Linked DNA regions of Homo sapiens: region 2 is reported to be linked to region 1. The links are microRNA targets in miRTarBase. Many come from high-throughput screens and were not tested one by one. Region 1 holds a microRNA gene; the other region holds the end of a gene's coding sequence.
The links. Region 1 holds the annotated microRNA hsa-miR-6771-5p (CUCGGGAGGGCAUGGGCCAGGC, at 2,188-2,209, shown strand). A microRNA usually pairs through its seed, bases 2 to 8, with sites in the 3' UTR of a target mRNA and lowers its output. Matches are read on the target gene's strand: a 7mer-m8 pairs with bases 2 to 8, a 7mer-A1 pairs with bases 2 to 7 and ends in A, and an 8mer does both.

Region 1 (4,148 bases):
TCCTGTCTGTTTGCTCCACCCAGGACCCCTCCAGACACCAGGCCATTCTGGGCATGGCGTTCCTGGTGCTGGCGGTGTTTGCGGCCCTCTCTGTGCTGATGTACGTCGAGTGTCTCCTGCGGCGCTGGCTCAGGGCCTTGGCGCTGCTCACCTGGGCCTGCTTGGTGGCGCTGGGCTATGTGCTGGTGTTCGACGCATGGACAAAGGCGGCCTGTGCGTGGGAGCAGGTAACAGGAACTCTGGACTCCCTGCCAGCTGCGCCTTCAGCAGCTCCCATCCCCGTGGTTGGTGGGCATGCCACAGGCCCTTCGTGCCCCACGCTTGGCTGTGTGTCTAGGATGGCCCCAGGCTGGTTTTGTCCCTGTGAGTTCTCTGCATTGACAGGGCTGAGGTGGGGAGAGCATCCACTCGGACGCTGGGCTGCAGCACTTTTGGGTGGCTCCAGTTTGGTTGGAGATGACAGAACTTCAGCTCAAAGAGGCAAAAAGGCACAAACTGGTTCCTGTGTCAGGAAAGGCCAAGGGGTCAGTGCTGGGCTCCAGTGGGTAACTGGAACTGGGGCCTCTGGACAGCTTCGGCCCCGGGCACGCTGTCCCCAGGTGGGGGCAGAGAAGTTCACAGCGGCTCCAGGCTGCCCACCCCAGTTGAGAGAGAGGGCCCTTTCTCAACCAGCTCGACCTGCAGGCTTGAGCCACACTGGCCTGGCTGTGGTCATGGGCCCAGTCCCAGAGAGGCTGTCACCAAGCGGTAGCACACTCTGACCAGTGGGCCTGGGTCCTATGACAGCTCCTGTGGCTGGGGCAGGGTGGGGTGAGGCCCAAGGAAACCATGTGGACTGAAGGGGAGGGAGAGGGCAGCACTCCCAGAGGGGTGGACGCAGGACCAGCCGGTGGGGATGGTGGGGCAGCTCTGGGGGTGGAGGGAGGGCGGGTGGGGCCGCATTGCTGGAGGCAGCTGGTGAGAGGGTGCCTCAGCCTCCCGGTAATCATTTCTGCTGAGCGAGAACCACGTGGCAGGGGCACCAGGTGGGGGCTCCCTGGATCACGCGGGGCATGGAGCCTCCCACCTAGGGTGGCCACAGGCAGTGGATCAGCACAGGAAACCATGAACCTTGTGGCCGGGCCCACCCTAGAAACACATTATGGCTTTTCTTGTTCCCTTGTATGTCTGCCCACGCAGGGGGTGGCGAGGGAGCCAACCTAAGGATACGCACTGGGTGGGCTGCTGTGGTGCAGGGTTCCGGGGGCTGTACGGCCTGGGGCAGCATCTTGGGGCACCGGGCTCACCAGGCTGCATCCACAGGTGCCCTTCTTCCTGTTCATTGTCTTCGTGGTGTACACACTACTGCCCTTCAGCATGCGGGGCGCTGTCGCCGTTGGGGCCGTCTCCACTGCCTCCCACCTCCTGGTGCTCGGTTCTTTGATGGGAGGCTTCACGACACCCAGTGTCCGGGTGGGGCTGCAGGTGAGGGATGGGCTAAGGCCTCTGGGGGAGGTTTTGTGGTCTGGGTCTAAGGGCAGATGGGGGGGCCCCCTCTGGGTGAATCAGACCCGAAGGCCCCGGAGCCGTGTTTGCAGACAGCCCGCTCCAAGGCCGGGCCCTCTCCACGTCTGCTCGGAAGCTGGGCTCCAGGCGTGGCCCTGCCCTCTGGCCTTTGCTTTGCTGGCCTAGGGCTCCCCTGTGGCTCAGCCCTCAGGGTCGTGACCTCAGGCCTTGCCTCCCGGTTCAGGGACACTGTCGTGGGGTGAGTCCCATTGCCGAAGTTTCCCCTCGAAGGCCCTGTCCTGGCGGGGCTTGGGGGAGTACCCCAGGGCACTGCCTTGTGTCTTTGTGTTGAATGAGTGAATCTTCTGTTCATAATTATTGGGTGTTTAGAGAAGTGTTTTCCCTCTGACCAGGCCTGGTGTCCTCTCCAGGCAGAGGCTGGCCCTCCACACAGCCAGCTGGGCGCTGTGCCCTCTGGGACTGCCCTTAGCACGCATGCCCCTCGGGCCCTGGGCTCTGTGAGGTGGTCTCTTCTGCCTCCCTGGGTGTCCTGGTCTTGCAGTCCTAGTGACTCACTAGGAGACTAGCTCCTGTCTGGGCCTCAGTTTCCCTGTCTGCCCCAGGAAGAGTGCCATTCTCAGTGGGTTGAAGGTCAGGGAATGGGAAGAGGTGCCATCACTAGTCCGCCTAGGGGTCTGGTGCCTCGGGAGGGCATGGGCCAGGCCACATAATGAGCCAAACCCCTGTCTACCCGCAGCTGCTGGCCAACGCAGTCATCTTCCTGTGTGGGAACCTGACAGGCGCCTTCCACAAGCACCAAATGCAGGATGCATCCCGGGACCTCTTCACCTACACTGTGAAGTGCATCCAGATCCGCCGGAAGCTGCGCATCGAGAAGCGCCAGCAGGTGGGACCCGGCCCCCACTCCTCACCCTGTACACCCCTGTCCTCTTCCTCTTTCTGTTGGACATGAGACACTCATGCTGCCATGTGCATGAGGTGCATGGCCAGACACCCATGCAGGTCTCACCTCGGTGAGTCCTGGGCTCCAGCAGGGTAACCATAGCCTGCTGACCCTTGACTCTGCCTTCCTCTGTGTGGTTTCAGTCCTGGGCACGCAGTCCCCAGGTGGCGGCAGAGAAGGCCGTAGTGGCTCCAGGCTGCTCACCCATCAGCTTAGCCTCCCCAGCTGAAAGAGCCCTTTCTCAGTCACCCTGAGTCCCGGGGGCTGCTGGGTACATGGGAGGTAGATGCTCAGTTGGGTTGGTGGAGGACAAGAGCAGAGATGGGGACATTGTGGGCAGGGCAGGCAGGCAGGGAGGATGGGGGCCAAGGAGGCCAGGTCTGGGACCTGATGCTACCCTGCCTGTCCCCCGCTGGTCCCTCCGCCGGTCGCTTTGCTGGTCCCTCTGCTGGTCTGCCCACCCACACCCAGGAGAACCTGCTGCTGTCAGTGCTTCCGGCCCACATCTCCATGGGCATGAAGCTGGCCATCATCGAACGGCTCAAGGAGCATGGTGACCGTCGCTGCATGCCTGACAACAACTTCCACAGCCTCTACGTCAAGAGGCACCAGAATGTCAGGTGGGCGGTGAGACGTGTGATTAGCATATCCCGGGGACTGGGCCCACCGTTCCACCGGCCCCCAGGCGGCCTCCCCGCCCTATCTGGAGGCTCAGACCCCTGCCCATATAGGGATTGGGAGAGGGCCCCATGGTTCCAGGTCAATCTGGGGCCCTCCCTGGGTCTCAGAACCCCCACTTGTGGGCAGGATCAGATCAGGGCTCTTAAATTAGAGAATTTAGATTGGTATTGAAAGATCTAGCACACCCCCAAAACTGTAAAACTGTGTGAGCAAACATAGCTTTTGTGAAGGAAGGGGTCCTTTCAGATGGTTCTCAAGGGAGCACAGGACCCCCAGAATGAGGTAAAGCCCCCCGGCCTTGGTGCCCAAGAGTGCCCCGGTTCTGACACCTGTCTTTGGCTGATTTGCAGGGAACCACAAAATTTTACTTGAATGCACTGACCTGAGTTTGTCAAGTGTCGATGTGGGTGCTGGGTGCCGTTGAGTGTAGATGTGGGTCCCAGGAGACCCCCTGGGTCCTCTGCCTGCAGCGCCAGCATTACATCCAAGGCTGGCCCGCTGCCTTTTCTCTGGGCTGTGGATGGTCCATGAGCTTAAGGACTTTGGAGCAGGGAGAACTGGTGCAGATGCCAGCTCTTGGCTTCCCAGCAAGTCTCAATGTCCTGGAGCCTCAGTTTGTGCATCTGTAGAACGGGAGTTCGGCAAGGGCTGTGTGAGGACTCGATGCCTGTAAAGTGCTGGGTGTGGAGGTTGGCTTGAGGGAGCATGGAGCTGCCTCTCACCAGGGAGTTCTGAAGTCTGTGCTGTGGTGAACATTGGATGGGAAAGGGGAAGGCTCCGGGCTGCCTGCAGGAGTGCCCTTCGGCTGTCTGCAGTGATAGGGCCTGGGGTGGGGCCGAGGGCTCCTGTAGGCTCTGAATTTTGCTCCCTTCTGCTTTAACGTGAAGCCCCTGGAACTTTAATCTGTCTCTATGGCTGGGCGCGACTCTCCCATCCCTATGGAGGCTGAGGAAGGACGGGGGTGAATGGGCTCAGGCCTGGCAGGCTCCTGGGGCTCCAGACAGTCCTGCGTGCTCCT
Region 2 (4,000 bases), not on the chromosome of region 1:
CAACCCATAAAGTTATTATGGCTACCTCTCCCCCTGAGGCAGCCCAGTGAAGGCTGAAGTGTGGCAATTCACGTTGTGGGTGGCGAGGAAAGGGGGAGGGGTGCCTATGGGCTTCCCACTCCCAAGCTCGAGGAGTCACCCTTCCCAATCAAAAGCCCAGACCCCAGGCCTCCCTTTTCTCTGCAAATAAATCTCTTGGCACCCCCCCACCGCCGCCAGGAAATCCAAGTTAGGTTGAGAGTGGGGGGTCAGACACTATTCTTCACCTTGGCATTGTAAAAGTTGTCACATTTTGGCACCCCCACTGCCCTCCCAGCCCTAAGGGCCCAGGCTTCCAGGATGGAAGGACCCACTGGGAAATTCTGTTTCTTGTTCAGATTAAGCCCTTCCTGCTGCAGGCTCTAAGCTGAGACCCAGAATGGGGTGGAGGGCAACTAATATGTCCCCCTGGCATGGGCTTCCCTGCTACTCTGGGCTGCCATCCTTATTCCCAGCGGCTACTGAGGTTTCTGCAGTTCAGGGAGGCATGGGCAGTACATCAAGGGAGGGGAGGGATGTGTGGTTTCCATTCGAGTCTATGAAAGCACTTGTACTTCCTCCAGGAAGTTAACTGGCTTCCCTGTATCCCCTTGTACACATCACTACAATTCATTCATTAAACAAACATTTATTGAGTGCTTTCTAGGTGCCAGGCACCAAGCCAGGCACTGTTAATACAAAAATTCCAACACAATCCTTGCCCTCAAGGAGCTTACAGTCTACTGGGGAGATGACCATTAGGCAGGCAAGTGAGCCCAGAGTGATCTGTGTAGTATGCCAGGGTGGGGGTCGGGAGGAGAGAGTATAGCCAAAGCTCCTTGGAGGAAGTCAAGTCTAAGTTGAGATTTGACAGAGAAAGTACCCTTTCTCTGTGACCAAAAGAAAGGAGGAATCAGAGTGGCAATGGAGAGCCACTGCATCTCTGGATACAGGAGGCTGGGACCCAGAATGCAAGAAGGCAAGTGATGAGACCAGAGAGGTGAGCAGGGACAAGGACACCATGAGTCTCACAAGCCATGCTGAGGGGTCCAGACTTTATCCTGAGGGCAGCAGGGAGCCAAGGAAGGTTTTAGGCCAGAGAGTGACTTGATCAACTATGCAATGCATTTTAGGAAGATAGCTCTGGCCACATGATAGAGAAGCAGTAGGAGGCTGTCACGATAATCCAGGTGAAAGCTGATGACAGTGGGAGTGGCTCAAATCAAGAGATGTTAAGGTAGACCTGACCGTTTTGAGAGATTGGATGTGGTGGGCAGAAAGAGAAAACAGGAATAGAATAAGTTTCCTGTCTGGCTCCTGAGTGATCTCGGGGTCAAGGGAAGTACCCAGAAGGGGCAGGTTTGCAGAAGACAGCAAGTACCATCTGGGCCATGGACCTGAATTGTCTGTGCACCTAGAGGGCAGCAAAACTGTGGTTCAGGTGATCAGGAAGGATGTTGGGGCTGGAGGTCAACTCTAAATTCCTCACCATCCTTGAAACCATCCAGATGGATGGGCTTCCCTAGGGAGCCCACAGCAGAACCCTGAAAGACCCTACTGTGCATGGGCAAGTGGAGAAGCCTGCACGGAAGCCTGAAAGGAACAGCCAGGGAGGTAGGACAACTAGCCACAGAGGTGCCAGGGAAGTGCCATCCAAGAAGCAAGGGGTGATCAGCCATGTCAAATGCTGCCCAGATCTAGTAAGACAGGAAAGGGGTCTGCTGGATTTAGCAAGCCCTGGGAGAACACTGGCAGTAGAGTGGAGGGGGCGAAGCCACATCATCAAGGTGAGGGACCAAGCAGCAGAGGGAGGAAAGTAGGGCCAGCTGTCAGCCCAATGGGAGGATGATGCAGGCTGCCAGTATCCCCTGCCTTGTCTATCCTGGTGTGCATAGGAGAAAAGGGCCTGGCAATCTCGTTCACACTAAGAGGAGACCAACATGTGCTCTTCCTCTCAGGGAAAGGGGAAAGCTGGTATTCTTAAGAGAAGGTAAATGCTAAAGCCAAGGAAATGAAGGGCTATGATGGAACTCCAGGCATGATATAGAGGAAATATTTTCAAGCACAGGGGTTTTTCCAGTGGCTTAAATGTATCACATGTGTACAGTTCATCTCTGTACCTGCCAGCCTCACTTTGAGGTATAGAACATGGCCAGAAATGGCTCTCATAGGGACTTCATTCCAATATGTACTGTTGAGCACTTGCAAGGCACTATAGTTGGAGTGCAAGGTCAACAAATGCAGGTCTGTGCCCAAGACCTGGCCTGCCTTCTTAGAAGGCAGATATATCTCCCCAGGAGCCAAGAGTGCACAGACGGGCCAGGGCTTGGATGCTCTTAGAGTGACAAACAGCTTCTCCCATTAGTCCCATTTCTTTAAAAACAGGCTGCCTGGAAGCTAATTTTTATTTTGTTTCTCCTTGAGCCTAAGATAGTATTCAGCCAGAAACCACTCCTTTTCCCAGAGGAAGATTTATAAATAGGATATTGTAGATGTTCTTCTGAAAATCTAGCCCAGTCCTAAATTGTCCCCTCTCCTACTCCCAGTTTGACAGTCACGGAGCCTTGGGGAAAGAGATGGAAGAGAGTGCATCAGAGAGGCTGCCTATAGCCCCACTTCCCACTCCTTGAGCAGGCTCAGCTCCTCACCCCTGCCCCCTTCCCATTAAGGGCCACAAGAACAGTCCCTTGGGAAGGGCAAGACCCAAACCCAGAAAAGGAGTCCCTGGAGCAGAAAAGTGAGTCCAGTCCAGAGCAGAAGGTTAGCAGGAAGAAAGGAAGATGAACTGTCAGGGTATTAAGGCAAACAGTGCCACCTAGAAGCGAAGCTTTATTCAAACGGAAATCTGCACTTGGACAGAAATCACCGTTCAACAGCAAAAACTATTTCTGTTGGACATGCCAAGCCATGGCCCCTCCCCATGGCCACCTGCCCAGAGAACTTGTCACCATCTGCTCTTAAGCTTCACAGACCCTGCCCTGCCTGCCCCAGCGGGGCCAGAACCTCCTGACCCACCTTGGAAGGGACAGGGGAGGACTGAGGGACCTCGGCCTCCTGGCTAAGCAGGCTCTGCCACCCTCCTTGGTGCCCTCTGAGGTTACAGCCTCTTGAAGCATCAGATCTGAGCCAAGCTGAGCCCCCCAAGGAGGGTGGGGATGGGGCTCCAGAGTTGAGGGGAAGAAAGCCAGGGCAGGTGGTAGGTGCCTTCCCGACTTCTGGTCCCCACCTGGCATAGAGGCCCAGGGGCCTGACTCTCCTGATCTTGCCCCCCACATCCTGCCTGCATGGGGGTCAGTATATCTTCTGACGACTGGGTAGAATGGCCTCTTTGATGAAGGAGAAGACAACCAGGATCCCTAAGCGTTTGCCCCGCTTGCCTTTGGTGAAATAATTGGAGACGACATCATCTGTGGAGATACAGGCAAGAATATGAGAGAGAGAGAGAGTGTGTGTGTGTGTGTGCGCATGTGTGTGAACACGGCCCTCCCAACCCCGAGTCCAGGTGTCTCCAACACAGGGCTAGATTCAGGTTCCCTCAGTGGACCCCTGCCAACCCAGGCCTTGCTGGCTTGCCCCCACCTGGGCCCCTTACAAATCCCTTCTCACCTCCTGGCTGCATGGTAGAGGGCAGGACGTTCTCCCCGGCCGAAAGTGACACAAAAAACGCAAACGGAATTATCCACAGGCAGAAAGTGAAATAGGCCAGGACCTGGCAACAAGAGAGACTGAGAAGAGGGTGCCCCGGAGGTGCCAAGAGTGGGCTGGGTGTGGTGACTGCGTGTTGGTCAAGAGTGCACAGGGGGCCACACCTGATCTCCAAAGGGGGCCCAGGCCTGGGAAGCAGGGAACGCCACCCTCAGACATGGAAATCCTTCTGTGGGGAAAGGTGGAGGCTGAAAATGACTGAATGTGGCCACAAACCCCATATCTTGGTCGCTAGGACAAGCAACTCCCCTGGACTGAAGGAGGCAGACAAAGTGCT

Region 2: miRTarBase lists TEX261 as a target of hsa-miR-6771-5p. Seed matches in the 3' UTR shown: 7mer-m8 at 829-835.

Annotation. Positions count from the first base shown.
Region 1 is chr16:50,290,434-50,294,581 of GRCh38, forward strand. MIR6771 (microRNA 6771) reads left to right here and starts at 2,183; the gene lies at 2,183-2,242. ADCY7 (adenylate cyclase 7) reads left to right here. Exons shown (of 26, transcript NM_001114.5): 3 at 24-227; 4 at 1,303-1,464; 5 at 2,243-2,392; 6 at 2,921-3,069.
Region 2 is chr2:70,985,291-70,989,290 of GRCh38, forward strand. TEX261 (testis expressed 261) reads right to left here. Exons shown (of 6, transcript NM_144582.3): 5 at 3,625-3,727; 6 at 652-3,425. The coding sequence ends at 3,310. It overlaps ANKRD53 (ankyrin repeat domain 53), which reads left to right. Exons shown (of 6, transcript NM_001115116.2): 6 at 1-209. The coding sequence ends at 10. Among named protein-coding and RNA genes, the nearest start is that of TEX261, 7.6 kb to the right of the region's middle.